Regions from separate parts of the Homo sapiens genome. Here regions 1 and 3 are each linked to region 2. The links come from fine-mapping of genetic effects on gene expression. A gene starts in region 2. Each other region holds a variant in brackets. All regions are shown on one strand. Distances are from middle to middle. Region 1 overlaps WARS2 (tryptophanyl tRNA synthetase 2, mitochondrial). Region 2 holds the start of WARS2 (tryptophanyl tRNA synthetase 2, mitochondrial). Region 3 overlaps WARS2 (tryptophanyl tRNA synthetase 2, mitochondrial).

Region 1 (10,982 bases), 82 kb after region 2:
CTTATTCACTATCAATAGCATGGGAAAGACCGGCCCCCATGATTCAATTACCTCCCACTGGGTCCCTCCCACAACATGTGGGAATTCTGGGAGATATAATTGAAGTTGAGATTATGTGGGGACATAGCCAAACCATATCATTCTGCCCCTGGCCCCTCCAAATCTCATGTCCTTACATTTCAAAACCAATCATGCCATCCCAACAGTCCCCCAAAGTCTTAACTCATTTCAGCATTAACCCAAAATCCACAGTCCAAAGTCTCGTCTGAGACAAGGCAAGTACCTTCTGCCTATGAGCCTGTAAAATCAAAAGCAAACTAGTTACTTCCCAGATACAATGGAGGTACAGGTACTGGGTAAATACAGCCATTCCAAATGGGAGAAATTGGTCAAAGCAAAGGGGTTACAGGGCTCATACAAGTCCAAGATCAGTGGGGCAGTCAAATCTTAAAGCTCCAAAATGATCTCCTTTGACTCCAGGTCTCACACTCAGGTCACGCTGATGCAAGAGGTGGATTCCCATGGTCTTGAGCAGCTCCACTCCTGTGGCTTTGCAGGGTACAGCCTCCCTCCTGGCTGCTTTCACAGGCCGGCATTAAGTGTCTGTGGCTTTTCCAGGCTCACGGTGCAAGCTGTCGGTGGGTCTACCATTCTGGGATCTGGAGGATGGTGGCCTCTTCTCACAGCTCCACTAGGCAGTGCCCCAGTAGGTACACTGTGTGGGGGCTCCAACCCCACATTTCCTTTCCACACTACCCTAGCAGAGGTTCTCCATAAGGGCCTCGCTCCTGCAGCAAACTTTTGTCTGGGCATCCAAGGCATTTCCATACATTTTCTGAAATCTAGGCGGAGGTTCCCAAACCTCAGTTCTTGACTTCTGTGCACCTGCAGGCTCAACACCACATGGAAGCTGCCAAGGCTTGGGGCTTCCACCCTCTAAAGCCACTGCCCGAGCTCTGTCTTGGCCCCTTTCAGCCACAGCTGGAGTGGCTAGGACACAGTGCGCCAAGTCCCTAGGCTGCACACAGCACCAGTACCCTGAGCCTGGCCCACAAAACCACTTTTTCCTCCTGGGCCTCTGGACCTGTGATGGGAGGGGCTGCTGTGAAGGTCTCTGACATGGCCTGGAGACATTTTCCCCATGGTCTTGAGGATTAACATTAGGCTCCTTGCTACTTATGCAAATTTCTGCAGCGGGCTTGAATTTCTCCCCAGAAAATTGGTTTCTCTTTTCTCCCCAGAAAATTGGTTTTGCATAGTCAGGCTGCAAATTTTCCAAACTTTTAGCTCTGCTTCCCTTATAAAACTGAATGCCTTTAACAGTATCTAAGTCACCTTTTGAATGCTTTGCTGCTTAGAAATTTCTTCTGCCAGATACCCTAAATCATCTTTCTCAAGTTCAAAGTTCCACAAATCTCTAGGGCAGGGGCAAAATGCTGCCAGTCTCTTTGCTAAAACATAACAAGTCACCTTTGCTCCAGGTCCCAACAAGTTCCTCATCTCCATCTGAGACCACCTCAGTCTGTACATTATTGTCCATATCACTATCAGCATTTTGAGCAAAGCCATTCAACAAGTCTCTAGGAAGTTTCAAACTCTCCCTTATCTTCCTATCTTCTTCTGAGCCCTCCAAACTGTTCCAATCTCTGCCTGTTACCCAGTTCCAAAGTCACTTCCACATTTTCAGGTATCTTTTCGGCAATGCCCCACTGTACTGGTATCAACTTACTGTATTAGTCTGTTTTCATGATGCTGATAAAGACATACCTGAGACTGGGAAGAAAAGAGGTTTAATTGGACTTACAGTTCCGCATGGCTGGGGAGGCCTCAGAATCATGGCAGGAGGCAGAAGTCACTTCTTACATGGAGGTGGCAAGAGAAAAATGAGGAAGAAGCAAAAGTGGAAACTCTTATAAACCCATCAGATCTAGTGAGACTTATTCACGATCATGAGAATAGCATGGGAAACACGGGTCCCCATGACTCAATTACCTCCCTTTGGGTCCCTCCCACAACACGTGGAAATTCTGCGAGATACAATTCAAGTTGAGATTATGTGGGGACACAGCCAAACCATATCAATCATACAACTTTTGTATAAAGCAAAAATTTAAAATATGGGATTAAAAAATGAATATAAGTAAAAGTCCTTTTTTTTTTATTTGCTGTGCTTCAGGAGATAGTCTTGCACAGCCTCTGAGAATCACAAATCTCATTTTGGAAACCACTGTTTTAATTGCTCATCTCCAGTGGCCACCATGCTATCTTTGTAGGTTCAAGTAAATATTCAGAATCATGAGACCACCACAGGTTATGTTTGGTACTAGTCTACTTAAAAAGGCATAGAACAAGAACCTTAGCTTGCCAGCAAGGTAGCTTCTCTAAACAAGAGTCCTTACTAGAGCAGTCCCTGTAGCAGTAGGCAGCTAGCTCCAGGAGGTATTTTCTCTCCAGGTGTACTCATAGGTGTAGGAACTATTTTTTCTCCAGCTCAAATGCAAGGAGATGAGATCTACATCAGTGGGTGGTACAATCTCCCTTACCAAAGAAGCCTCAGTTTTCCACAAGAGCCAATATCTATTTTTACATTTCATATATAGACCTTGGGGTCACTGAAAGAGATGTACCAGTTACAAGGGTCACTATACTCAGGAAAGCCTAAACTATTACTTTCTCTCAGGTATTTATAGTTCTCTAAGCCTAGATGTACTTTACCAGCTGGGGATTATTTTTATCATAAGCAATGTTGCCTAGCAGTGTTGTTAACACATACTGTTTTATCTGGTAAATACAGACCTAGGTTGTTGATCCAGAGTCAGAGTCTCATGGAGCAGGTGAAAATGTTTTGTTAACCTGCTTACTCAGTTGGCTACTAGATTCCATTAACTAATAGAATCCATTAGATCAGTCATGTTGCTGCTCTTTTGATTCTCTACTACCATTTCTGTACTTACAGACAGAGCAATAACCTGTGAACACTTTAATGCTGTAAAAATAACTATGAGGAATTAGTTTCTCCCTAAGGGAGAAGGTAGCATCCAACTTCCTGATCCTAAATATGTAGTTTCATGAGACTATGTTCCTTTATTTTCTCAATCTTCTAACTCTATCTTCCTTAAGTGGGTTAATTTCTACTGATCTATCTTTTCATTCAGTGACTCTTCTGCCCTCCCAATCTGTGTTTAAGACTTTATAATGATATTATTTCAGATATTGTATGTTTTTATTCTAGTATCTTTATTGGCCCTTTTTTATTGGTTTAAAAAATTTATCTGCTGAGATTTTCTATCTGTTTATTCATCTCAGGAATATTTTCTTTTGTATCTTTAAGCATAGTTGTAATAATCGCTTCAAAATTTTTGCTAATTAAATACAACATATGGAACATCTCGGGTTTGGTCTCCATTGACTGCCTCTTTTCTTAAGAATGGTTTTTGTTTACCTATTTTTTAATATGTCTAATAATTTTGGCTAGTATCTTGAATATTTTAAATGACAAATTGAAGAGATTTTAAATTATGTTGTATTCCTCTGAAGAATATCTTTAAATAAAAATCTGTTGTTTTTTTAGCAGGCTCAAGCCCCAAATTGTCTTTCCAGTAGTAAGCAATAATTGAAATATTTTGCCAGTTGTTTTAGCCATTGTTGGACAGCTTGGAGGTGGCCCCGTGCATGTGGAATTCAGGGGTTGGCCAGATACTTGGGTAGAGTTAATACATAGAATATAAGGCTATACCACTCTGACTCTTTATTTAGAAATTTCACTGCTTATTTTCCAGGCATTATGGTGACCCAAACTTTGTTTTTTCATTCTTCAAGCCAGTAAGAATGCAGGTTTCTATCATATTTAGATGCTTTTTATGTCTGCAACTGAGGACTGCCCTCAGACAGAAAGTCACAAAACAGGACACTTACTCCGTGTTATCCATTTTTTAAAAGAGTAAACCACACCCCTAGTTTCTGCCTGCTTTCGATTGTTCTCCAATGCCTTCAGGCCGTTGATTTTTATATTTTGCTCAGAGTTGAAACTTGCTATCTGTGTTAGAATTTATCCAATAGGAGCTTGCTATCAACTGAGTTGTATCCCTCAAAATTCATATGTTGCTCCCTTAACCCCCAGTATGACTGTATATAGAGATAGGGTCTTTAGGAAGTAATTAAGGTTAAATGATGTCCTAAGGAGGGAGCCCTAATCTGATAGGCCTGTGGCCTTATGAGAAGAGGGAAAGATCTGTCTGTTTTTCTCTTTTTCTGCCTGCCATGTGGGGTTATAGCATGAAGGCAGCCATCAGTAAGCCAGGAAGACAGGAAGGGAGCACTCACTAGAACACAACCATGCAGGCCCCTTCATCTCAGACTTCCAGCCATCAGAACTGTGAGAAAATTAATTCCTGTTATTTCAGCAGCCCAGTCTATGGTACTTTGTTATGGCAGCCCAAGAAGACTGATACCAAGCTAAGTAGCCATTACTAGAAGTGAAAGCCTTGTTTTTAGATTGGATTGGAAAACTCAATATTGTTAATATGTTATCTTTTAAACTTTTAAGTTCAGGAGTACAAGTGCAGGTTTGTTACATAGGTAAACTTGTGTCTTGGGGGTTTGGTGTACAGATTATTTCATCACCCAGGTATTAAGTCTAGTATCCATTAGTTATTTTTCCTGATCCTCTTCCTCTTCCTACCCTCCACCCTTTGAAAGGCCCCACTGTGTGTGCTTCTCCTCAATGTGTCCATGTGTTTTTATCATTTAGTCCCCACCTATAAGTAAGAACGTGCAGCATTTGGCTTTCTGTTCCTGTGTTAGTTTGCTAAGGATAATGGCCTCCAGCTCATCCATGTTCCTGCAAAGGACATGATCTCTACTTTTTTTAAATATTGATCTATAGACTTCTCACAATCGCAATGAAAATTTCAACATACATTTTTATATAAACTGACACACTGAATCTGAAATGTATAAGGCCATGCAAAGTGTTTAGAATACTCAAAACAGCTTTGAAAAAGAAAACACAACTAGAGGACTTATACTGCCTTTTGAAGCTTATTATACAGCTATAATAATTGAGAGTGTGGTATGGACATAGACTTACAG[G/A]TCACTGAAAAGAAATGTAGAAAGCTGAAACTGGATCCCTTCCTTACACCTTATACAAAAATCAATTCAAGATGGATTAAAGACTTAAACGTTAGACCTAAAACCATAAAAACCCTAGAAGAAAACCTAGGCATTACCATTCAGGACATAGGAATGGGCAAGGACTTCATGTCTAAAACACCAAAAGCAATGGCAACAAAAGCCAAAATTGACAAATGGGATCTAATTAAACTAAAGAGCTTCTGCACAGCAAAAGAAACTACCATCAGAGTGAACAGGCAACCTACAAAATGGGAGAAAATTTTCACAACCTACTCATCTGACAAAGGGCTAATATCTAGAATCTACAATGAACTCAAACAAATTTACAAGAAAAAAACAACCCCATCAAAAAGTGGGCGAAGGACATGAACAGACACTTCTCAAAAGAAGACATTTATGCAGCCAAAAAACACATGAAAAAATGCTCATCATCACTGGCCATCAGAGAAATGCAAATCAAAACCACAATGAGATACTATCTCACACCAGTTAGAATGGCAATCATTAAAAATTCAGGAAACAACAGGTCCTGGAGAGGATGTGGAGAAATAGGAACACTTTTACACTGTTGGTGGGACTGTAAACTAGTTCAACCATTGTGGAAGTCAGTGTGGCGATTCCTCAGGGATCTAGAACTGGAAATACCATTTGACCCAGCCATCCCATTACTGGGTATATACCCAAAAGACTATAAATCATGCTGCTATAAAGACACATGTACACGTATGTTTATTGCGGCACTATTCACAATAGCAAAGACTTGGAACCAACCCAAATGTCCAACAATGATAGACTGGATTAAGAAAATGTGGCACATATACACCATGGAATCCTATGCAGCCATAAAAAATGATGAGTTCATGTCCTTTGTAGGGACATGGATGAAATTGGAAATCATCATTCTCAGTAAACTATCGCAAGAACAAAAAACCAAACACCGCATATTCTCACTCATAGGTGGGAATTGAACAATGAGATCACATGGACACAGGAAGGGGAATATCACACTCTGGGGACTGTGGTGGGGTTGGGGGAGGGGGGAGGGATAGCATTGGGAGATATACCTAATGCTAGATGACGAGTTTAGTGGGTGCAGCGCACCAGCATGGCACATGTATACATATGTAACTAACCTGCACATTGTGCACATGTACCCTAAAACTTAAAGTATAAAAAAAAAAAAAAAGAAATAGGGAATCAAGAAGTAGACCCACATATATATGGTCAAATATTTTCAATGAAGGGTTCAAAGCAGTTCAGTGGGGGAAAAAATAGTCTTTTCAGCAGAGGGTGTTAGGTCTCCAGCTAGATGTCCATGTGAGGGAGAACATGAACCTTGACTCTCACCTCATACCATTCACAAAAAAGATCAACTTAAAACCACCACAGACTTAAATGTAAAATCTGAAGCTATGAAACTTCTGAAAGAAAATATGGGGAAAATTTTCCAGGCCTTTAGGATAGGCCAAGATTTCTTAATAGTACACAAAATCACTTAATATAAGAGAAACTATTGATACATTTGATTTCATCAAAAGATAAAGCCTCTGTTCTTCAAAAACACCATTAAGAAAATGAAAAGGTAACCCATAAAGTGGGAGCAAATATTCACAGTACATATATCTGGCAAGGCTTTTATCCAGCTGTATAAAAAACTCTTAATAATAAGGAGACAACCTAATTTTTTTTCTTTTTTTTTTCTTCTCAGATGGAGTCTTGCTCTGCATCCAGGCTGGAGTGCAGTGGTGGGATCTCGGCTCACTGAAACCTCTGCCTCCCGGGTTCAAACAATCCTCCTGCCTCAGCCTCTAGAGTAGCTAGGATTACAGGCACCTGCAACCATGCCTGGCTAATGATTATATTGTTAGTAGAGACGGGGTTTCACCACATTGGCCAGGCTGGTCTTGAACTCCTGACCTCAAGTGATCCTCCCGCCTCAGCCTCCCAAACTGCTGGGATTACAGGCATGAGCCACTGTGCTCGGCCATGCTAATATTTTAAATGGCCACTTTATTTGAGTAGACATTTCACAAACAAAGGTAACAAATGGGGCCAGGCGCAGTGACTCACGCCTGTAATCCCAGCACTTTGGAAGGCCGAGGAGGGAGGATCACGAGATCAGGAGTTCAACACCAGCCTGGCCAATGTGGTGAAACCCTGTCTCTACTAAAAACACAAAATTTAGCCGGGCTTGGTGGTGTGCACTTGTAGTCCCAGCTACTCAGGAGGCTGAGGCAGGAGAATCACTTGAACCCAGGAGGCAGAGGTTTCAGTCAGCCGAGATCGTGCCACTGACTCCAGCCTGGGCGACAGTGCAAGACTCCATCTCAAAAATGATAATAATAATAACAAATGGCTAATAAGCACATGAAAAGTTCAACATCATAGTCGTCAGAAAAAAAACCATAGTAAGATACCAGTTCACCCACTTGGATGACCAAACTTAAAGATACTGAGAATACTATGCTTTGGTAAGTATGTTGAGAAACTGGGATTATTTTACATTGCTAGTAACACTGTAAAATGATAAATCTACCTTAGAGAACAGTTTGTCAAAGTTAAACGTATACTTACCACGTGACCCAGCAATTCTACTCCTAGGTATTTACCCAAAAGACTTTACCAATAATCTACAAAAAGAGTTGTATAAAACATGCTGAGTATTAAAGCCAAGCATAAGAGTTTATATTATATAATTTCATTTAAATGATATAGAATAAGCCAAACAAATCCACAGTAACAAAACTGATCAGTGGTTTCAAGAGCAAGGGGTACAAAGGGACATGAGAGAACTTCTTTTGGGAGAATCAAAATTTTCTGTATCTTGATTGGTGTATAGATTTGTCAGAATTCATTGAACTGAACAGCTAAAATGAGTGCATCTTATTGTTTATAAAGTATGCCTCACTGGGCTTGATTTACTATATATAATATATATATTTAGTATATATATATATTATATATTTAGTCTATAGTCTAAGTCTACAAATATATAGAATGTATATGGACTAAATATATACTATAAAAATATATAATGTTTAAATGAATAGGCTCGTAGGATGTTGTTATATGAACCAAAAGAAAGAAGGAAAGCCCATGGAATTGTGTAGTGTAGGGAACACTGCAGGTAGTTTACTGCAGCTAAAAAATTGGTATGGGCCAGGCGTGATGGCTCATGCCTGTAATCCCAGCACTTTGGGAGGCCATGGCAGGCAGATCGCTTGAGCTCAGGAGTTTGAGACCAGCCTGGGCTACATGGCAAAACCTCGTCTGTACTAAAATTACAAAAAAAAAAAAAAAAAAAAAATTAGCCAGGCATGGTGGCACTTGCCTGTAATCCCAGCTACTTGGTGGGGCTAAGGCAGGAGAATCGCTTGAGCCTGGGAGGTCGAGGCTGCAGTGAGCCAAGGTCACACCACTGCACTCCAGCCTGGACAGCAGAGAAACAGAGAGAGACCCGTCTCAAAAAAAAAAAAAAAAAAGTTATGGTATGAAATTTTCATCTGATCTTTGAATCATGTATTCACAATGCAACCAAGAAACAGCCTGCTCAGAGTTTTATTCCGTAAACTAATAATTTGATTTGTTGATGTATCATGTTCCCTATACTGATAGTTTGTTTCTTTTATCAACTGCTTTTCTTTAATCCCCCAAAATTGTCCTCCAATCCATAACTTTTGACTATTTCCCTTCAGATTTTCTTTCTTTCTCCTTTCAGATATTCTTTCTTTCCTTCCTTCCTTCCTCCCTCCCTCCCTCTTCTCCTCCTCCTCCTTCTCTCTCTCTTCTTTCTTTCTTTTCTTTCTTTCTTGCCTTTCTTCTCTGTTTTTTGTTTGTTTGTTTTTTCTTTTTGGGACAGACTATCCCTCTATTGCTGAGGCTGGAGTGCAGTGGCATGGTCTCGACTCACTATAACCTCTGCCTCCTGGGTTCAAGTGAATCTTGTGCCTCAGCCTCCCAAGTAGCTGGGACTATAGGTGCGCACCATCATGTCCAGCTAACCTTTTTGTACCACCATGCCTGGCTAACTTTTTTGTATTTTTAGTAGAGATGGGGTTTTGCCATGTTGGCCAGGCTGGCCTTGAACTCCTGACCTCAGATAATCCACCTTCCTCAGCCTCCCAAAGTGCTGGGATTACAGGCATGAGCCACCATGCCTGACCACTTCTCAGATTTTTTTCTAGCCATTTCGTTTCTCTCTAATTCTAGACTTGTATTACCAGCTATCTTCTAGACATCTCTGTGAATATCTTCAAAGTCTCAAGTTCAGCATATCTGAAACCAGACCTTTCCTTTTTGCCTCAAACCAGCCCTTCCATGTGACTTTTAAAAACAATTTATTGAAACAAAACTCACATAACATAAAATTTACCATTTTTTCCAACTTGAGAAATACGTTTCATCTATATTTTTATATACCTTTTTAAAAATTTTTGAAATTTGTAAAACACATTAAATTTATCATCTTAACCATTTATAAGTATAAAGTTCTGTAATGTATATTCACATTGTTGAACAACCAATCTCTAGAACTTTTTCATCTTGCAAAACTGAAAATTCTATACCCATTAAACAATAACTCATTCCCCTCTCCCCCACAGTTCCTGGCAACTCCCACTTTACCTTTTGTCTCTATGAGTTTGACTACTCAAATGTATACCTCATACAGATAAATCATACAATATTGGTCTTTTTGTGGCTGGTTTATTTCATTTAGTATAATGTCCTCCAAGTTCATTCATATTGTAGCATGTGTCAGAATTTTCTTAATTTTTAAGGCTGAATAATGTTACATCATATGTTTGTACATTTCATTTATCTAGTCATCTTATAATGGACATTTGGGCTGCTTCCATCTTTCAGCTATTGTGAATGATGCTGTTTTGGGCATGAGTGTACAAATATTCTTTGAGACCCTGCTTTTGATTCTTATGTATATATATGAGAAATGGAACTGCTGAATCATATGGTAATTCTATTTTTAATTTTCTGAGGGATCGCTATGCTATTTTCCATAGCAGCTGCACCATTTTACATTCCTATCAACAGTATACAAGAGTTCTAGTTACTCCATATCCTCACCACACTTACTATTTTCTGGGAGATATATATATATATGGCAGCCATCCTAGTGGATATAAGGTGATATCACATTATGGTTTTGATTTGCATTTCCCTAATTATTAGTAAGATTGGGCATCTCTTTCATATGTTTGTTGGCCATTTGTATATGTTCTTTGGAGAAATGCCTATTCAAATCCTTTGCCCATTTTTCAATCGAGTTGATGTTTAGTTTTGTTTTTGCTGTTGATTTGTAGGAGTCCTTTATTTAAAATGTTTTATTTAATAATAATAGTTATTGTTTTATTTAACAATAATTTATAATTAAATAAATTATAATTTATTAAATAGTATTATTTAATTATTATTATTATTTGATAGGGGGTATCTCTCTGTTGCTCAGGCTGGAGTGCAGTGGTGTTATCATAGCTCACTGCAGCCTTGACCACCTGGGCTCAAGCCATCCTTCTGCCTCAGCCTCCTGAGTAGCTGGGACTACAGGTACATACCTCTATGCCTAGCTAATTTAAAAAAAAATTGGTTGGGGGATGATAGAGATGGGGCCTTCTTGTGTTGCCTAGGCTAGTCTTGAATTCCTGGGCTGAAACAATCCTCCTGCCTTGGCCTCCCAAGTGCTGGCATTAGTGGGGTGAGCCACCGCACCTGGCCTTAAGAGTTCTTTGTATAATCTGGATGTTAACTGCTTGCCAGACATATGATTTGCAAATATTTTTCTCCCATTTTATAGGTTGCCTTTTTACTCTGCTGATTGGGTCCCTTGATGGAGA
Region 2 (10,982 bases):
TCTCACTGGCTGAAATGGAATTTGACTGAGACAGTGAGGTCAAGACCCTATTTTTAGAGGCAGAGATATCTTTTAATCATGTTTTTATAAATATCAAGATCTAAGCATTATGTTTTACTTTCAGTAGTCACACCTAGGATCATAGCATCATACTAGATAGACAGGGTGTTGGATAGGATCTAATGTAGTTTGATTACAAAGACAAACAGAAAAGAGCCTATCTAAAAGCCACTCGAGGGAGCTTTTTGGAGATCTTGTTAAAGTTCCTTTTGTAAAAGATAAGCTTTGAACGGCAAACCCTGCTCCCCCAAGTTATAAAGTAGCTGGGAGCAAAAGATGGTGATTTTAAAATAGAGTAAGTGTACAGATAGCATAAGGATCTTGTCTTTAGGACCATACCAAGTGGAAAAGATACACCATGCAAAGAGAGACAACAAAGTAAAATACACTTTCAAAAGTTGAATTTTGCTAATTTTAAAGTTGTATTTCCTCTATGGGATACATGTCCTAAGACTGATGATGAAAAATGGGGATAAGGACCATTGAAATAGTCTTACAATTCTCCCAAATTATTCTCTATTCTAGATCCATACCCAAGGGAGCAATTCTCTGCCTTCTTTAAAGACCTGTTCTCTAATGTTCAAATGGCCATTTGTAAGAGTATGGAGAGAAAACATTAAATATGAACAGGAATCCTGGGGCCTGTAACATTCCTATGTAATCAGTATTCCTCCTGGTTCTGAACACTAAGGACTCTACTTGTAATGGAGTCAGTTTTCATGCATATTATTCACTTGTGTCTGCTCTGACTCTACCCACCTTCCCCACCTTCTCTCAACTCTCATCAAAATATCTTCACTGTTGTGGGGTGGAAAATTGTCCTTAAGGCAAGAAGTTGAACCTGGCAATATAAAAAGTGTGGCCTTGACCCTTAATCTTAAGAAAAAAGTGCTCTGAGAAAAATCCCATTTTGCTATTCACATCACTTAGTCTCTTCTTGGATTTTGCCCTTTCTTCCAGAAATAAAGTGACAATGATGACTCCCTATAAAACCCTTTAAGCCTTCCCAAAGGTAAGATGAGCTTCTGATTATTGTCCTTACAGTAAGATGCTATAATTTGCTCTCTCCCAAAAACTACTAGGGAAAGACAACATCTTTTTACATTAGGGGTGGAGATGAGAGTATCAGCCTTTAAAAATAAGACATTTGCTTGTTCTGACTTTGAAACCTGACACAAGGATGTGGCTTTATGTGGAACCTTCCCCATTTGGACCCGCCCTAGCTTTAGCCTCTTCAGCTTTACTGTGGTGTCAAAGTAGAACATTCATCTGGAGATGGATTTCTTTTTTTTTTTTTTTTTGAGATGAGTTTCGCCCTTGTTGCCCAGGCTGGAGTGCAGTGGCACAATCCTGGCTCACTGCAACTGCCGCCTTCCAGTTTCGAGCGATTCTCCTGCCTCAGCCTCCCGAGTAGCTGGGATTACAGGTGCCTAGCACCATGCCTGGCTCATTTTTGTATTTTTAGTAGATGGGGTTTCACCATGTTGGCCAGGCTGGTCTCAAACTCCCGACCTCAGGTGATCCGCCCACCTCGGCTTTCCAAAGTGCTGGGATTACAGGTGTGAGCCACTGCGCCCAGCCGAAGGTTCTTCTCATTGTTGCTTTTACTTGTGTGATTTTGGTCAAGGTACTTAATATCTGTGGACAAGTTTCATTAGTTATAAAATAAGAGGAAGAACTAAAGTTAAGCCAAAGGTAAAAAAAGAATAATCATTATTACAGTTTCCCATATACTTTTATGACTCTTGGAGGTTATCTCACTCAAAAGCAGGATCTGCCTCACTTTAATTTGGGTCCTTATAATAGGTCCAGCATAAGATGGCATGGTCAGAGAACATGTACAGAGAACTATAGTCCATAATTATGAAGAGAGAGGTTTGTTTGCTTTTATTATGGAATCTCTTCTATATTTGAAAAAACATACTCAATATAAATGAAAGGTCAGGGGTGAATGAATTGTGCTTTAAGTAAGTTTTGAATACAATTGCCATCTAGTCTTTGCAGTCTGCAAAATTCTTCTTTAAGTGAATAAATGTGTAGGGCAACTCTCCATTACCTTGATCAGCATCTAATACCAACCTGACACTTAGAATTAAATTAGAGAAAGAAAATTGGATACTTTGAGACTTGAGGGCTGATTATACTGCTTGAGCTAAGAATGGATTTAAACTCTTCCCTTATCCCATTTAAATCTAACTAGGTATAAACTCTCCATTACTAAGGAATAGAGGTGTGTCTGCAGAGGTGGAGGTTCCCCTTGATGTTCTTGGACAAGGAAACCTAATCCTTTCTTCTGACACACATGGTTGCAATAGAAACCATTTCCCAACTGCCAGTCTGGTTTTAATCTGTTGTTTCTAGCAGGAGAGGATTTGCAGGGAATGTTAAGGAGAGAACAAAATTACCAGAACTTACTATAAAGTAAAAGTGTTGATGAGAAATCAAAATTTAAACAAGTGTTCAAAATTGTAAGCATGAACATATGTAGACATATAGTTCACGTTATAAGGATAGGACTATAAAACTTTTTAATCTTAGGTATGTTTAAAGTCTGCTTTCCATACAACATTTATATCTTACTTTACCAAAGTTCTTTAGCTTACTCAAATGATAGCAGTGGTAAAATACCGTCATTAAATACAGTGGTGCTTCATTTAAACACCACTGTTGGAGAATGAATTATTCCATAGGAGAATTTTCCATATAACCAACTGCATAATACACACTTTTCTTTTCTTTCTTTCTTTTTTTTGAGACAGTCTTGCTCTGTTGCCCAGTGTGGAATGCAGTGGCTTGATCTCGGCTCCCTGCAACCTCTGTCTCCCTGGTTTAAGCAACTCTCGTGTCTCAGCCTCCTGAGTAGCTGGGACTACAGGCGCACACCACCATGCCTGGGTAATTTTTGTATTTTTCGTAGACATGGGGTTTCACCATGTTGGCCAGGCTAGTCTCGAACTCCTGACCTCAAGAGATCTGCCCGCCCCAGCCTCCCAAAGTGCTGGGATTACAGGTGTGAGCCATTATGCCCAGCCCATGATATATACACACTTTTAAATGTTAACCATTTTGTATGAAAACATTTCAAAAGTGTATTGTAGGTTTTTTCTTCAAAGATACATTGAATAATATATCTTTCCCCGAGGAGTCATGGTTACCATTATTAAAAACTTATTAAAATACGTTAAATATACTGAGCTGAATATATTCCTCCTCTTAGAAGATGGTGAGCTTTGTAGTCATACTTTCCCCAACACCAAAATGCTTACTGTGAAAAAGTACAAAAGTAGACAGAACTGGTTCATTTTTAATACATCCTGTGTCTTTTCTGTTAACTGTTCCTTCTGGCTGTTAAAAGCATAACAATTGCTGACAATAAGCTGTGTAATTTGTTAAAATCCAATTTACTTTTAAAAGAGGTGCCTACTCTGCATAAGAGACTATTCTAGGTGCTGGGGGAGATGTTAGAAATATAAACTATAGTCCTTGTCCAAGAAGCAAGGCTGGCTGAGTGACACCTGAGAGTTACCAGGTCACCGCCACGGTGCAAAACACAGTTTATTACTTCTAACAAAGTCTAAAAATTAGCAAATATTTTCAATTTTAAAAATCAGGATACTAAAGTTATAAAACTTGTGGTCTTAAAGTCCCACCTTTTTTAGTGGGACTATGTCTTGGAAATACCTCCCACGGAAATATTATTGGTCATAGGAGTCTGCAGATACGACTAAGAACTACTTCTTGAAGAAATAAAGTAGGTACACCCTTTGACAGCTTTTGGTGCACCATAGTCTTATTGCTAGGTTTTATCTTGCTATCTAGATGACTAAAGATGTCAGAAAGCTAATCTTGCTAATTGCTAGGGTCATGTAATCTCATTAATAAAATATATGTAAAACACTGTACTATAATGCTTTGCTCTATGTATGAGTAAAACATGTAGGGCATTTATTAAACTGCATTTTACAAGGCATAACATATATCCCCCTTCCCCTGGCAAGGTTTGTTTCCAGGGTCTCAGTAATATCACATTCTTTGGGTTCTACAACACCTCTTGGCTCCTTTATTTCCATCATCTGGCTACTTTCACTCCACAAACTCTATCTGATGGTCTCAAGGATTTCCTTGGTTTCAATTACCATCTGTTTGGTAGTTCAAATCTCTTCTGAGCTCCAGACCCATGTATCTATTTAATGGGCATCACATTTTGGAAGTACTACAAGCACCTCAAATTTAACAGCCAAAACCAAACTGATCAGCTTTGTTGAAGACTATAACTTGATTTCCTAGTTTTTTTTTTGCCTTCATCCCTTTCCTGCTCACTTCTAAATTACACCAATTATACTTGAACTTCACCAGTACTTTGTATACCTACAAGATTATCCTATATGGTTTTAATTTACTGTTTTGTCTTACCCTGGTAGATTTCAGCTCCTTTATAGGCATCTCTTATCTCCTACCTCTCCTTGGTAATTTTCAGTAGCTGGATGAATTATAAACAAAACACATAAAGGAATTGTCATGAATTTCTTCCAGTTATATTTTTACTGAAACACTCGTTATCTGTCTGGGAGATTTTTAGGTGAATTAACAGAAGCAGAAAAACTGTATTAAACTTTCTCATAACCCCAAACAAAACAATTTCTTCCATCAGGTATAACCTTCCTGCAGCCTTCCCTAGACTAGGTTGAAACACCACAGTCATAACCACTCCTCCTTAAAACTTGCGGTGCTTGCTTCTTTAACACCTATTAAGTGTACATCATTTATTTATCCGCTACTCTATTAGACTGTACACAACTTGAAGACAAGATATGTCTTTCTCTGTACCTTCAGTGCCCAGCACATTACGGTAGGGTTCAACAAAGTTTACAGGACGAATGAAATAAGGCCACATAAGTCCAGTGCGGTGGCACATGCCTGTAATCCCAGCACTTTAGGAGGCCGAGGCAGATGGCTTGGCTTGAGCTCAGGAGTTTGAGAGAGCCTGGGCAACATGGTGAAACCCTGTCTCCACCAAAATACAAAAATTAGCCGGGCGTGGTGGCGCACCCTTGTGGTCCCAGCTACTCAGGAGGCTGAGGCAGGAGAATAGCTTGAGTCTGGGAGGTGGAGGTTGCAGTGAGCCGAGATCGCGCCATTGCACTCCAGCCTGGGCGAGAGTGAGACCTTGTCTCAAAGAAAAAAAAGGGAAATGAGGCCACACATGTCTAAAAAGACCACTTATATTACCCTCTAAGAGAACTGGGAGTTTCTAAACAAACTTTTTAAAGGTTGCCTTCACATAGCTAAGATCAGAAATGCAGCCTACTTGACTTTCTTCCAGTCTAAAGCGTTGCTACTAATAACCCCCAAGGAAATTCTCCTTCCAGGAAGGCTGAGCAGACAAGGGATCCAGGGAAAAACACTAAAGCCCCACCCCGCTCCTGTCCCCACCTGCTCGGCAAGAACTGCAGTCCGCCCGATAGCGGCTGCGCTGCGCAGCCTGGAGGCCCAAGCCGCGCCCAGCAAGCAGGAGTCGCGAGACTGGGATTGGCTCTCTGAACAGACGTCATTCCAAACAAGACGGCTCCGCCCTTCTCAAGATGGCGCTGCACTCAATGCGGAAAGCGCGTGAGCGCTGGAGCTTCATCCGGGCACTTCATAAGGGATCCGCAGCTGCTCCCGCTCTCCAGGTAACCAAAGACGGCCCTTCCCTCCGCGGCTTCCCATCCCGCGAGGTTCTTCTCATCCCACTGCCCTCTATTTATTTCTCTCCTCCCGCTTCTTAGGGAAAGTACATGCCTTCCCTCGCCTAAGGTCTACTCGTCTATGACTGTCGGCCTGCTCAGAGCGTAGTGACGTTGCAAGGATACGTGATGACGTAAAGGTTTCTTGGTGGAAAAAGCGCGCCGCTTTCTGACCTCTTGCCGCCACCTCCAGTTCTGGGAGCGGAGCGCCGCCGCTGTTGCCGGGCAACGCGGTGAGCCTACCCCGCGTGTGATGTTTTCAGAGACGGGTTGTTTTAGAGACTGCTCTTCTTGTGGTCTTATTACTGTTTTTACCCTCCTTACCCTAACAACACGCTAAGGGGCTATCGGAGAGAGTAGAGAAGTTTTGTTAGGCATTGGGCAGCTTGGGTCGGGGCAGCAGGTTGGCAGTGTGGTACTTGAGCAAGTGTCAGTGCATCTTCCATTCTGGTTGCTCCTGGTGGCTCCACAGCACTGCTCTATCTAGCAGGCTGTGAAAGAGTGACCGCAAGCTGCTACAGAGTTTGTCCTGTCCTGCGCTTGACAACACTGCTGTTACCATTAATCTCGTCGTACGGAGACCATGTCGCGGCCTGGTCTTATTGGGAATTGTCTTAAATATTTGGAATTTTACCCTCATAGCAAAAAAGTCAGGGGGAGGGGATACCCTTTCAGTTATTCAGGATTTTACCAAACGTCTTCCAAGTACAGTCTCAGTGGCAAGCACTTTGACATACTTTATCTACGGGAGATATATTCTGGGAACTAGAGAGAAAGGAGAGAATGTGATTTTATTAGGTAATTTCCCGGCATCATTTGCATATGTATTGCCATAATGAGTAGGTGTGAGGATGTCGCACCTATTGTAACTGTTGTGTTGAAAACAGCGCTAGACAGGAAGGTAGCCTAGAGGTCAAGGGTTTGGTCTGCCACTTGACAGCTGTGTGACAAGTCACAATCTCTCTGGGACTTTTCTTCTTTTTTTGCTCATATTGAGTGGAGGAAGAGAGCTGGACTGATTGACACGTTAATGTTCTTTCAACCTCTGGAAAATCTATAGTTCCATGATTATGAAGCCAAAACAAAGCCAATGAGAGTAATTATGAAAACCAAAATTTAAGTTCAACTTATTTTTCTAGTCATGTCATAAATTTTTTGAACTTCCGTTTTTTATTAATGTGAGCCTCACAAAATTCTTATAAGCTAATATATTAATATATACCGGAAAGCTGCTTGTCAGCAAACAACTATTCAAATGTCACCTTAAATTTCAGCAGCAATGTTAGGTAAGACAATTCAAAATTAGATAAATTTATCAAAAATTCCTCTCCTTGAAATTTGAGGGTTTGATTCTGCAGAACTAGAATGAGATGATTATTTATAATTTATAGCACATTAACACCTATGCTATCAAAGTAGCTAAGCCGTAGACCCAAACTTCCCCTTATTCCAAACTAAAGAATTGAAGATGTCTTGAGAATAGAGAATCAAAGAGAGAGAGAAAAAAAAGACAAACTGCAGCCTGCTAATGACTGCCCAGGGAAGTTTAAGACACTAAGTCATTATAAATGCTAAAGAAAAAATTTCTTAAACCTCTACTATTGTTTCAGTGGCATTTATGAATAGGGCTATTAAAGTTAATTATTAATCTAGATTGTTTCAAGATGTAGAATTTCCAGTACCGATGAATGTTTCTAAACCTTTAATTTAGCTTTGAGTAGAATAAGTATTAAATGTGAGAGTATTTTTTTAAAGTATAAATCTACATATAATTTCAGTCATTGAAAATGATGGTTTGAAAGATTAATGTGGTTTTTTGAAAGACTGAGAAAAGATACAAAATTGTGTTCATAGTGTTATTACGATGTTATGTTTATATATAAGTGTTTATATAAACGTATACATAGAAAAAAAGCCTGGAAGGGAACAAACATTTTTAACTTTTTTATTTTGCTTTGGCCTTCCTAAATAGTGGGTTAAAAGTTATTTGTTTCCTTTTATAGCATTACATATTTTTCACATGTCTAAATTGAAGACACACACTTTTTAATAACCAGAAAAACGTTTTGAAATCATAAATCTTTATACAGATCTTTAGTCATTAATATCATTTGTGATATTTTAGGATTCTGAGGAAGATACTTGTCCCACAATGCTGTTATTAAAATGGCCTTAGAAAAGGACTACTAAAAATTTATGGCCACTTTTCCTGTATGTATCTTCTTTTTCTCTTGAAAAGCTTCCTTTGAAGTCAAAGGGATTTTGTGAACAGATGCAGAAATATGTGAAAGAGGCATTGGATTCTTAAACCAGATGCATTAGACATTTTTATGATATCTCATAACCTTTGTAGAAAAAAATTATTTTGCAAGAGTATAGTATAATGGGAAAAAATGTATATTTATCATATGAATGGTTCCATCAAAAACCAAGAAATAGCCAAGTTAGTTTTTATTAGCCTTGGCTGTGCACTTACTCCCTTAGGTGTAAAGCAAAAGTGAATGAGCCATAACAGTGCTATGTTAGAAACTCTAACTAATAAAGTGTTGTGATTCCTAAGTTGTTTTAATGGTTTTTAGTGTTTTCTTTTTTTAAAACAAAATCTTGGGTAAAAATGTTGGCATAGGGCATCTTTGCTTATCTCAGAGGATGCAGATGTAAACTCAAGTTGAAAATAAAACAGGGAGAAACAGGAATAACAGCACATCACTCCATACTCATTATGGGATGTCTACAATTTATATGAAAACGGTTTATTTTGCCAGGTGTTGCCTGACAGAAAACTGTTGAAATCTGACAAGATGAGCGTAGTCATAAAGTCAGAGGAGTTAAGATCTGACATGTTCTGTTTAAATGTTGATGGTATTAGGTAAATTTAAGCCTGTCATCATTGGCCAAACACAGAATCCATACTTCTTTAAGCACTAAGTCATGATTGTATTGTGCAAAGAGTGAAATATTGATGGTTAGTAGATTTTTGCAAAAGTATTTGTTATTCAGTTGAAGTATGATAAAGTGTCCACATTTTATTGCAGTTGAACATGTTTCATTATTAGCGGTTCCTAGTCTGGGTTTGGCCAGTATTCACATAATGTTCTTGCTGTTAACTATCGCTAAGTATAGCCATTAGATGAAGAATTACGCCTAAAAAGAAAAAAAGCGTGGTTTAAAATTTTTGACCCTGTATTTAATTCTCACAAGATTTAAATTTTTTTAATTTTAAAATAATTTTAGATTTACAGAGTTGCAAAATTAGTACAGAGAATTTCTGTATACCCTTCACCAAGCTTTGTCTTGAATAATCATAATACAGTTATCAAAATCAAGAAATTAATATTGGTACAATAATAGTAATTTAGCTACAGACTTAGTTCAAATTTCACTAGTTTTTTCACTGTCCCTTTCCTTAGTCCAAGATCAAATCCAGGGTCCCACAATGCATTTAGCTTTCATGTCTCTTCTAATGCATACATTTTCTCCTTCATGACCTTGGCACTTTTGAAGAGAACCAGTCAGTTATTTTGTAGAATGTCTCTCAGTTTAGGTTTGTCTGATTTTTCTTTGTGTTTAGACTGAGGTTATGGATTTTTGGCAAGAATACCACGAAGAGATATTGTTCATAACAAGGCCTTGAGGCAGGTATTGCCACCTTATTTCAAACGTGAAGAAATAGTCTTTGGTTAAGTAACTTGCCCAATGTCACACAATGGTGGAATTAGGATCGTAAGATTTAATGTAGGCATTTCATTCCATATTTTGCAATTAGTATTTGTTATTGTAGGTTTCTGGAATGTTAATGACATTAAATTGGCATAGTGTTCCCACTGACTTTTAGCTTTTCTCTGCCATGTATTGTTCATGCAACATGCAACATGAGCTAATCAGCATGGTATGTGTTCAAGAGCTACTACAATCATCTGGGAATTTTGCTAGTTGATTACTCTGCCAGTTTGATGAGGTTACTTCATCTCTCATGGCAAAAAAAGGTGTTGCGTGGATCCACTCTAAAGCTCCTTTTAATCTCAGTCGGTGAGTCTTATTTGTTTAAAGTGCTTTTGTGGTTGGTTGCTTTTGTGAACTGACCTAGTTTATTAAAATGATAATAATATTTAAATTCTTTGCAATATAGCTTTGAGGAGCTAATGAAAACTACTGATAGTAACTGTTGAAAATATAGAGGAAGGAAGAACTGTAGCTGAATGCTGAGGATTTATGCTAGCAGATAGTACGGCAGCCATGGCCTGGAAATGCTGAAGAGAGTGATGCTGCTGACCTCCAAATTCTTGCTCAGTATATCTTTCGAATGACTGCAAGTTACAGAAGAGCTGTCTGCAGAAGCTTCTACAACTATATGTACACACACACACACACACAGACAAATATATATTTTTTATACAAATTTATTTATTTATTTATTTAAACATCTATTGGCCAAGCACGGTGGCTGACGCCTGTAATCCCAGCACTTTGGGAGGCCGAAGCAGGTGTATTTCTTGAGCTTAGGAATTTCAGACCAACCTGGGCAACATAGTGAGACCTTGTCTCTATAAAAAATTCAAAAAATTAGCTGGGCTTAGTGGCATATGCCTGTAGTCCCAGCTAGTCAGGAGACTGAGGTAGGAGAATCACCTGAGCCCAGGAAGGCTTCAGTGAGCAGCGATTGTGCCACTACACAGTTAAGATCCTGTCTGAAAAACCAACAAACAAAAAAACCCCAAAACCCATCTCTCTCTCTCTCTCTATCTCTCTATCTATCTATCTATCTATCTATCTATCTATCTATCTGTCTATCTAATCTATCTATCTCTATATTCCATGTCTTTCAGAAAAGGAACTAACAGCTAGTGCCTGCTATGTGCTAAAGTCTCATGGTATGTGTTTTACATACTTTATCTTATTTACTTCATACAACAATTTGTAAATATTATTCATCCCATTTTATAAAAGAGGAAACTAAGATTCAGAGAGTTTAGGTAATTTTCCCAAGTCACAGAGTAAGTAAATAGCAGTGACACAGTTCAAACCTAGTCTTGCCTATGCTTTTCCCACCTTACCAGTAGTCTTTTATCAAATGAAATCTTACATGAATCCCTGTTATATAAAACAGATAAAAGCAAAGCTTTTCTGATTTAAGAAGCAGAGGAGTATTTTTAGCCCTGCTTGTTTGATTTCCCTCTCCCCCATTACCCGCCCCAC
Region 3 (9,255 bases), 100 kb after region 2:
CTCTGTGTTTATGGAAATCTTCTATGTCTGTGCTAGATCCTGTAGCCAGTAGCCACATGTGTGGCTATTGAGCACCTGAAGTGTTGCTAGTGCCACAGAGGAACTGAACTTTAAATTCTATTTAATTTGAATTAAATTTAAATAACCACTGTATTAGACCTACAGGTTGAGAGCAAGTTTTTAAAATATGATGTAGGGTACCTGTACTTTTCCTGGACCCCTAATCCATCCAGTCAGCTACTGCTGCCACTTAAAGTCCTCAAAAATATACACCTGAGGATGCTGATCCCTGCACTCGCTGTACTACTGGCCAGGGCTTCTGATTTCATCCCCCTCTCAATTCTTCCGTGCAAACCCCTCATCAGCCTCCCTTGACCCCCATTTGGCCTTCTAGAGATAAAGCCTCCCAATTGGCATGTGCTTAGGGCCATGCTACTGTGAAAGCTTCTGGGAAAAGAAGACACTGCACCAGTGTTTTTGCATCCCTTTCCCCTAAAGCTGTGAATTGCAATTCTTTGCATGGAAGTCTGATAATAGCATGAAGATGACAGTATCTGTACCTCGTGGCATGACTCCAGAGCCCTTGTGCAATTATGATGGAAACGGCCAAAAGAGCAGCTGCTTAGCTCTACAAACAGGGAATGTCCATGAGTACATGCAGCCTATCTTCAATTCTGATGAAAACTTGCAAGGCTTATTTGTCTGTTTGTTGTATTAACTTGTATGCTGGACTCTTGATAACATTTATTATTTGTAATAAGTAGCTTTTGACTTATTTAAAAGGCTAGAACAATATTCTCCAATAAGTAACAAATGAAAGTATAATGAAAGTCTTAATAATACATTTTCTAGAGAGGTAGGATATTTGCTTGTAAAGGTTCTGTGAAGAAACTTGACTTTCTCACCTGTAAAACGGGAATAATTATTAAGCACAGGATTATTAAAGGATTAAAATGAAATATAGGCCAGGCAGTACTGTGACTAGGAGCTGTTACTTGGTTATGACTAATGATGACTATGTCTTTGATAATTACAATGTTGTCTAATTTTGTTTCAAGGCCTACTTCTTTATAGAACCAAAGGCTAGCCAGGTGTGATGTTGCATGCCTGAAGTTCCAACTACTTGGAAGGCTGAGGCGGGAGGATCACTTGAGCCCAGCCTGGGCAAAATAGTGAAACCTTGGCTCCAAAAACAAAAACAAAAAACAAAACCTGAGAATTGTCAGCACTAGAATAAGAAAACACATGAGCGTGGTAGGTTTCCTTAATAGTTCAAGAGCTGTAATGGAAGAGTCCTCTGAGTTTAGGGCTATGGAAAAGCATAAACTTTAACAAGAATGACTACATTCTTAATGATACCATGAAGCAAAGGATGGGAAGGAGCTTTAAGGAGCCTCTTCTTTAATTCCATTGCTTTACAGCTTCAGTCCAGTGTGGTTTAACAACTTGCCTGAAGCTAAGTAGCCAGTCAGTTGACTTTGGAACATCTGGGCAAGACTATGGGTCTACAGCACTTTTTCTGCTAATGTACATTTTGTATTTGTCTCATTATGTTTTCTCTCAAGTTTAGAAGTTCCTAATTGCTCAATAATAAGTAGCAGAGTCAGGATTTAAACTCAGGTTTGATTTTTAAGCTATATCATTGTTTTCCCTATAACAGAGATGAAGCACTTGAAGGTATTTTTATTTGTTTTTGTTTTGCTTTGTTCCACACATTTCTGGATTTTGAAAAAGGTCATTGCCAGAATGTCTATGAATATTTGTATTATAAATGTAGACAGGTAGAATGGTAGATTGAAGGGTGGATAAAACATCTGTGTTTTTTTTTTCCTATCAGCAAATCTATGTGTGACCTCTTCATAAAATTTTGACGCAAGCCAAATATTAGTGTTTCCTTTTGTCAAAATCATCATTAGAATGAGTGGCATGGTGGGTCAGAAAACAAACATAATAGAAAGGAATGGAAGAGGAGCCTTTCAGATAAGTTTATAAAAGATTTATGTAACTATTTTGGCAGAACTTGGTAAGGAACCCTGGAATGGACAGCTGAGACCATCTTCAGCTTGAGAGTATGATAAGTACAAGAAATTTGAATACAGACAAAATATTCCAATGCTCAAAAATAGCAAGTGTTCATAGTTTTTATTTTGCATCTGTATTATTTCTCCAAATGCCTAATTTCAAATAGCTGGCTATGTATTAAGTAAATGTTTATTTCTCCCCTTTCTCTCTCTGTGTATATGTCTCTCTCTCTCTCTTTTTCTCTCTCTCTGTTTGTGTGTATGTATATGTGTTATATATATGTGTTGTATACATATATATATACACACACACATACACATAAAGGCACACACATACATATATAATTTTTATTAAACAACAACAAATAGTTGCTAAGTACCTACAATGCCACTGATCCGGAAAAAGGGCACTATACATGGCCTTGAGGGAAAGGAAAGGAAGGACTTGACATGTGTTGAGAATTATTTGCCAGGCATCTACTAACTGCTACACACTCATTATCTATTCAGTTCTCACAATAGGGCTATGAAATAAGTGGGTGGCATTATCCCCATTTTACAGATGGGGAAATGAAGTTTCAGAGAGATTCCACTAAATTCATTCAGATAGAGATGAAAGTGAGTATCTGGGCTAATCAGATTATCTTTCTCAAGAATCTGAAAAATTTGGGAAGAGGATAAGAAGACTGGAAACTGACGGGCACAGTGGCTCACGCCTGTAATCCCAGCACTTTGGGAGGCCGAGGCAGGCAGATCACCTGAGCTCAGGAGTTCAAGACCAGCCTGGCCAAAATGGTGAAACCTTGTCTCTACTTAAAATACAAAAAATTAGCCGGGCGTGGTGGTGTGTGCCTGTAGTCCCAGCTACTCGGGAGGCTGAGGCACAAGAATTGCCTGAATCCGGGAGGAGGAGGCCGCAGTGAGCTGAGAGTGCACCACTGCACTCTAGCCTGGGTGACGGAGTGAGACTCTATCTCAAAAAATAAAAACAAAAAGAAGACTGAAAACAAAAGCAAAAATGATATAGAAAAATGAGAAAACAGAGGCCTCAAGAAACTGCAGGCAGAAACCAAACCAAACCAAAACCCAGAAAGTATAGAGAGTAAAATGATTGCTCAGAAACTTCAGACTGGTAGAGTCAGAGAAGAGGTGTCATCATAATGTCTAAGAATCAGGCTACTGCCATTGAGGACCATTGAAAATAAGCTTTTTGAGAGCTTTGTATTATTATTATTTCTCTTTCTTTGAGACTGTCATAAAACAGCATTTGAGAGCTTTTTCTAAGAATGCTGGATTTCCTATAGCTGCCTTGGAAACTTCCAGTTCTTGAAGTGCTTCATTCTTTGTGAGGCCGGTTGAGCCTGGATTTTTCCGAGATGCAGGAAGCTACTCATTTCTGTAGTCTGCTCATATCCACATATTCACCCACTCTACCTAAGCAATAATTTTTTATCTTTCTCTTTCCACTTTACCTCTATTAGGCAAATGCCTACACCAAACCAGAACCCTACTGAAAGGCAGTATGAAAAATGTAGTTTCCAGGCTGCAGCCCCTGAAAATCAAGAGGTAGCATAGAAGGGAGAGAATGGTGCTGAGATGTCAACAGATAATCCAGTACACTCTCTAAAAAGTAACAGGAAGCTATTTGTACATTTTAAGGATACAGCAAATTTGATATGACTTATACTTTTAAAAGAGAATTGATTAAAATACAGAGAATGAGTTTTAGGAAGAGAAGAATATCTGGGGCCATCTATTTAGAGGCTATTTCACTAGTCTAATATGGGCCATGATGATGACAGTGAAGATGCAGAAAAGTAGACAAATATAAGAAACATTTAGGAAGTAAAACTGATAGGACTGGATGTGTATGAGAGGGAGGTGTCAGGGATGACCCGATATTTCTGACTTACCCAACTGGATTGATAGCATTGCCATTCACTGAGATAGGGGATGCTGAAGGAGGACTGGCCAGAAGAATTTAAAGCTTCATTGGGTATTATCTCTCCTCCTGGTGGCCTTAAATCTTTAGAAAGTAAACCCTTCATTATATCTTTCACAGTACCCAGCACCAGGACTTTCACATCGTGGGTCTTCAATAAGTAATTGCTGAATTAGAGAGTCATTATTGCATATCCTACAAGCAACTAGTCATGAGGAATTAATCCTTTATGACAAGAAAACACCACCAAACTCCTGTCCCAGCCGGGCTGGTTAAAGGCAGCAGCACTGAAAACTTACAAACACAGCCAAAAAAGTAGAAAAAGAAATAATAAGAGAACAAATCTCTGTGAGCAGATATATGTAGGCAACGTTTATTCATCTGGACACTAATTCTGCCAGAAGGGTGGGGTGATCTCAAGTATCATAGATGCAAAAAGGAACTAAGCAAAAGAAAAATGGTTTAGTCACCAAAGGAGAAGATCAGAGGCATTATTATATGACAGAAGTTATAACAATCAAAATTATGAAAGGCTTTTGTTTTATGTTGTGTCTAAGAAAGCACAGTCAGAGTAACTTAAAAAAAAGGAAAACAGAAAAAAAGAGAAGACACATTAAAAGGGATATCATTATGCAGGGTATAAATTTTTAAAGAACAGCACTAAATTATTTGAAGTGAAAGAAAGACTGAGGAGAAAGGCTGAAAATATGAAGAGAATAAGGCACATAAGTGAGTAGAATCAAAGACAAGATGAATTAATGTAAAGTGTAAACTCAATGGATGAGAAGTAAAGGCTAAGATAAATTATAGGAGGTGAAAGGAGCAGCAGGAGCACAGGGAGGGAAGGCTAGAAACAAACACACTAAAATCAGATGAAAAAGCCAAGTGGAGCAATGGGGCAGATGAAAAAGATTAAAATTTTTTAAATCCTTTTTGTTTTTAAAAAGCAAAACCCCACAGAATTGTTAAAAAAGAGGCAAGGATCCGACATCAGGCAAAGATGCATGCAGAGTCATTATGAAAACTAAATGTGTTTTCTGTTTAGTTTGGTTGCTTTGTGAATCTGGAACCATTTTGACATGTGGAAATATTCATTTTGATGTGCTTAAAGTGTATTGATTATGGTAATTGTTTTTTCTGTGTTGGTTGCAGTCCATTGTGATTTCCTATGGGCTACTGTAATTGCTTTCTAATCTGCTCTGTTGGCTAATTTGGCTTGGGGGCGTCAAGGTGACCTCTGCATGTCAGCCTCACTATAATTACAAGACAGGTATAGC[G/A]AAGTCCACTCAAAGAAGAGAAAGTTACAAAGGTGGGGTGTCTGCATGTACATCCCAGAGAGGAGTATCATGTAGGACCATGAGTGCTGAGGAAAACATAAAAAGGAATATTTTTGTTTTTGCCACTCACTGATCCAGTGGCTTTCTACTCCAGGCTGCGTGGAAGAGAGCAATGGCTATGGCCCTAATAGTTATTCTGTAGAATTTCCCACATTAACTTATTTATTTTTATTTTTATTTTTATTTTTCGAGGCAGAGTTTCACTCATTTCCCAGGCTGGAGTGCAATGGCGCAATCTTGGCTCACCGCAGCCTCCACCTCCGCCTCCGGGTTCAAGAGATTCTTCTGCCTCAGCCTCCGGAGTACCTGGGATTACAGGCATGCACCACCACACCCAGCTAATTATGTATTTTTAACAGGGACCGGGTTTCGCCTTGTTGGTCAGGCTAGTCTCGAACTCCCGACCTCAGGTGACCCGCCCACCTTGGCCTCCCAAAGTGCTGCATTACAAGCGTGAGCCAATGCACCTGGCCAACATTCACTTATTGACCTTAGAAGAAGAGAAACCACTCTGGGTCTGCTGTCATGGTCCTTACATTTTGCCTTTCCATTGATTGTTCTGTTCTTGTTTTCCTTAAATTAAAAGAGCTCTCAGAATTCCTGTAACATACCATTTATATTTTGGGATTACCTGATCAGATATGTGAACTGTCAGTTTCAAGTAAGTTTTCTATGCATATCAGGATCACTGCCCAGGTCTGTGACTATCTCTGGGATTATGCATTACTATTTGTGGTATGTCAGCTCTGAAAAAGGAAAATGATCTGGTGTGAAAAAAGTCAGTGTACCCCTCATCAAGGTTCTCTATAGTATCTTTATTTTACCATTTGTCCTTCATTTTACCTTTATTTGTCCTTCATCATGTCAGATATTAATGAATATATAGTTATATATTATATCAATAGCAACCATTTATTGAGCTCTTACTATCAATTAGTATACGTGTTATCCATGAAAGAGCTATATGAGGTAAGCTCCATGATGAACCTCACTTTACAGAGGAAACGAAGGCTTAGAAAGGGTAAGAAACTTGCCTATGATGGCTCGCTGCTTTTTTCACAGGAGCAATATTGTTTCTTTGATTAAAAAAACCTCAGCGCACTGTATTACTTGTATTATCAGGTATAAACTCCCAGCCAAGCATTGCATGTATAAAATTGCCTGTTTTTTAATCCCGCCATATTGCTTCAGTATAAAATTTTCCTCATCAAGACTTCTCTATAATGGTTCATTCTTCCCTTATTTGATGTACTATGTCATGATCTGACACTGCAAACTTTACATATGGGATTAAACTCATGATGAAGTCATTCCCTATATTCTGATATTTTTGGTTTCACATCTTCATTTCTTCATAATATGAAATATTACAGATAAAATTCAAGTCTCCTTTGTTCTTTTCTTCAGATCTATTTCCTTTCCACCTTCTCTAGAAGCAGCTACAATTACAAATTTGGGGAGGAGCTTCCAGTATGTTTTTTTACTTATTATTACAGATATATTTCCATAGGCACTTGTAAAATTTACGTAAATGTCAGTGTATTTCATGTTTTCTCCAACTTGCTTTTTTCATCCCACATAGTTTTTGATAGCCATCTACATTGTACTTATAGATTTTAAGTTCTCTGCAACATATTAATTGTCCTGTGATTGCAATGTACTTGAAAATGAAGCTTACTCCAAAGAATATTGAATTACTCCCTATGTGACAGGGAGGAAAAACTCTTGCCTGAAGAACTTTCTGCTGCCTTTGATTTGAAGAGTGGGGTGGGGTGTCTTTCAAGTATGAGCTGTAGTTCTGAGGTAAAGAGCATCTGGTCAGGGCTGGGAATAATATGTGCTGACTGGGTGAGGGAATGAGGAGTAGTTTTAAAACACAATTGTGCCTAGAGCATATGCTATTTAAAATCCCATTCCTCCCTCCCAGCAAGATCCTGTCATGCTGGTGTTGATGGCTGTATTCCCCTGCTGTGGAAAAAACACAACTAGAGTAGAGAAACATCTCTTTGGCTTTTGTCTGATCCATAGATAAAGACTTAGGTCTAAACATTCCCTCTATAGTTGGTGAACATTTGTTGAATACCAACAGTGAAATATTCACAGGAAATGCAGCTGCTTGCAATATCATTTCTGTCTCTAAGAAAGAGCCTTGCTGTTGTTTTTCTGTCTGTCTTTTATTAAAGGTCCACACACGTTCCTGTTGGGGAGGATCAAGTCCAGCACATGGAACTAGTTCAGGATCTAGCACAAGGTTTCAACAAGAAGTATGGGGAGTTCTTTCCAGTGCCCGAGTCCATTCTCAGTAAGTAAGAAACTTATAATTGTTACATCAGGGTATATTCTAAAGAGAGGATTGGACAATAGATAGGCTTGGAACTTTCTTGGGACTAACCTCAGCTTTCTTGTAGACAGGCTTCAGGATCTGTAACTAGAGTCCTCATTGTTTTCTCTAGTGTAGGACTAGAAAGTAGACTACGTTGGATTCCTGAAAAAGATGTTGGATTATTGAAAAGGATAACTAAAAATATTTTAAAAGTATGGAAGAGACCAAAAATTTAAAATAATATTTATAAAGTAGTATATAATTTATGAAGTATGAACAGATGCTTCTTGACTTATAATTGGGTTACATCCTGATAAAGCCATTGTAAGTTGGAAACACTGTTAATCAAAAATGCATTTAACACACATAACCTACTGAACATCACAGCTTAGCCTAGCCCACCTTCAGCGTGCTCAGAACACTTACATTAGTCTATAATTGGGCAGAATCATCTAACACAAAGCCTATTTTATAATAAAGTATTGAATATCTCATGTAATTTATTGAATACTATACTGAAAGTGAAAAACAGAATGGTTGTGTGGGTATTTCAAGTACAGTTTCTACTGAATGGATATCACATTTGCACCACTGTAAAGTTGAAAAATCATAATTCAAACCATTGCAAGTTGGGAACTGTCTGTGTGTACATCTTGGTGATCTGTTTGTTTTGTTTTTGTTTTGGGTATGTGTGTGTTGGTGTTTTTAACCTAGCATCCATGAAGAAGGTAAAATCCCTACGTGATCCTTCTGCCAAAATGTCGAAATCAGACCCTGACAAACTGGCCACCGTCCGAATAACAGACAGCCCAGAGGAGATAGTGCAGAAATTCCGCAAGGCTGTGACAGACTTCACCTCGGAGGTCACCTATGACCCGGCTGGCCGCGCTGGCGTGTCCAACATAGTGGCGGTGCATGCCGCGGTGACGGGGCTCTCCGTGGAGGAAGTGGTGCGCCGCAGCGCGGGCATGAACACTGCTCGCTACAAGCTGGCCGTGGCAGATGCTGTGATTGAGAAGTTTGCCCCAATTAAGCGTGAAATTGAAAAACTGAAGCTGGACAAGGACCATTTAGAGAAGGTTTTACAAATTGGATCAGCAAAAGCCAAAGAATTAGCATACACTGTGTGCCAGGAGGTGAAGAAATTGGTGGGTTTTCTATAGGAAGTTTCAACGAATCACAGCAAGGCTTTTGTGCCTTGCACTCCATGCATTCTGATAACGGCAGCTTTCCTAAAAAGAAAAAGTTATAGTTTTGGGACATTTAATTTGGTATAGCTGATTATTGGCTTTATTTGATGAATATTGCTTTGTAGCTTTGAAATACGACAGTGTTCCAAATCCCATCAACAAAATGCTGTGAACAACAACAACAAAAAATAAATCAAGAAGGCATAGCTGTCTGAATCCCCAATTATTGAGGCACACTCCTTGGCCTGCAGAAATGTGATTGAAGTAAGGAGTAATTTGGGAAATGGAGTATCATTTGTGCTTCTCTCTGGAGTACTTACTGTAACAGATGCACACGTTATCTACTTCAACCCTTTTATAAAGCAATATATAGAGGTCTTAGATGTATAATCCTTGAGATGCCATTTGATCAGATGCCAATTTGTATTCAGAGCTCATAAAA

The links. PIP is the estimated chance that this variant, and not a neighbour inherited with it, causes the effect. A credible set is the group of variants that fine-mapping cannot tell apart.
Region 1: its variant is the best candidate, but not a certain one, in a credible set for the expression of WARS2 in spleen (GTEx, PIP 0.51).
Region 3: its variant is the best candidate, but not a certain one, in a credible set for the expression of WARS2 in subcutaneous fat (GTEx, PIP 0.56).

The regions. Positions count from the first base shown.
Region 1 is chr1:119,053,645-119,064,626 of GRCh38, reverse strand. All of the region lies in intron 2 of WARS2 (tryptophanyl tRNA synthetase 2, mitochondrial), which reads left to right. It overlaps WARS2-IT1 (WARS2 intronic transcript 1), which reads right to left. Exons shown (of 2, transcript NR_126447.1): 2 at 1,340-1,773. Among named protein-coding and RNA genes, the nearest start is that of WARS2-IT1, 12 kb to the right of the region's middle. RefSeq lists a silencer at 4,094-4,294. The variant G/A (reference allele first, on the strand shown) is at 5,092.
Region 2 is chr1:119,135,305-119,146,286 of GRCh38, reverse strand. It overlaps WARS2 (tryptophanyl tRNA synthetase 2, mitochondrial), which reads left to right and starts at 5,634. Exons shown (of 6, transcript NM_015836.4): 1 at 5,634-5,732. The coding sequence starts at 5,643. WARS2-AS1 (WARS2 antisense RNA 1) reads right to left here and starts at 5,891. Exons shown (of 7, transcript NR_125975.1): 1 at 5,494-5,891; 2 at 4,474-4,540. RefSeq lists an enhancer at 5,553-5,862.
Region 3 is chr1:119,032,442-119,041,696 of GRCh38, reverse strand. WARS2 (tryptophanyl tRNA synthetase 2, mitochondrial) reads left to right here. Exons shown (of 6, transcript NM_015836.4): 5 at 7,484-7,602; 6 at 8,338-9,255. The coding sequence ends at 8,786. Among named protein-coding and RNA genes, the nearest start is that of WARS2-IT1, 10 kb to the left of the region's middle. The variant G/A (reference allele first, on the strand shown) is at 5,241.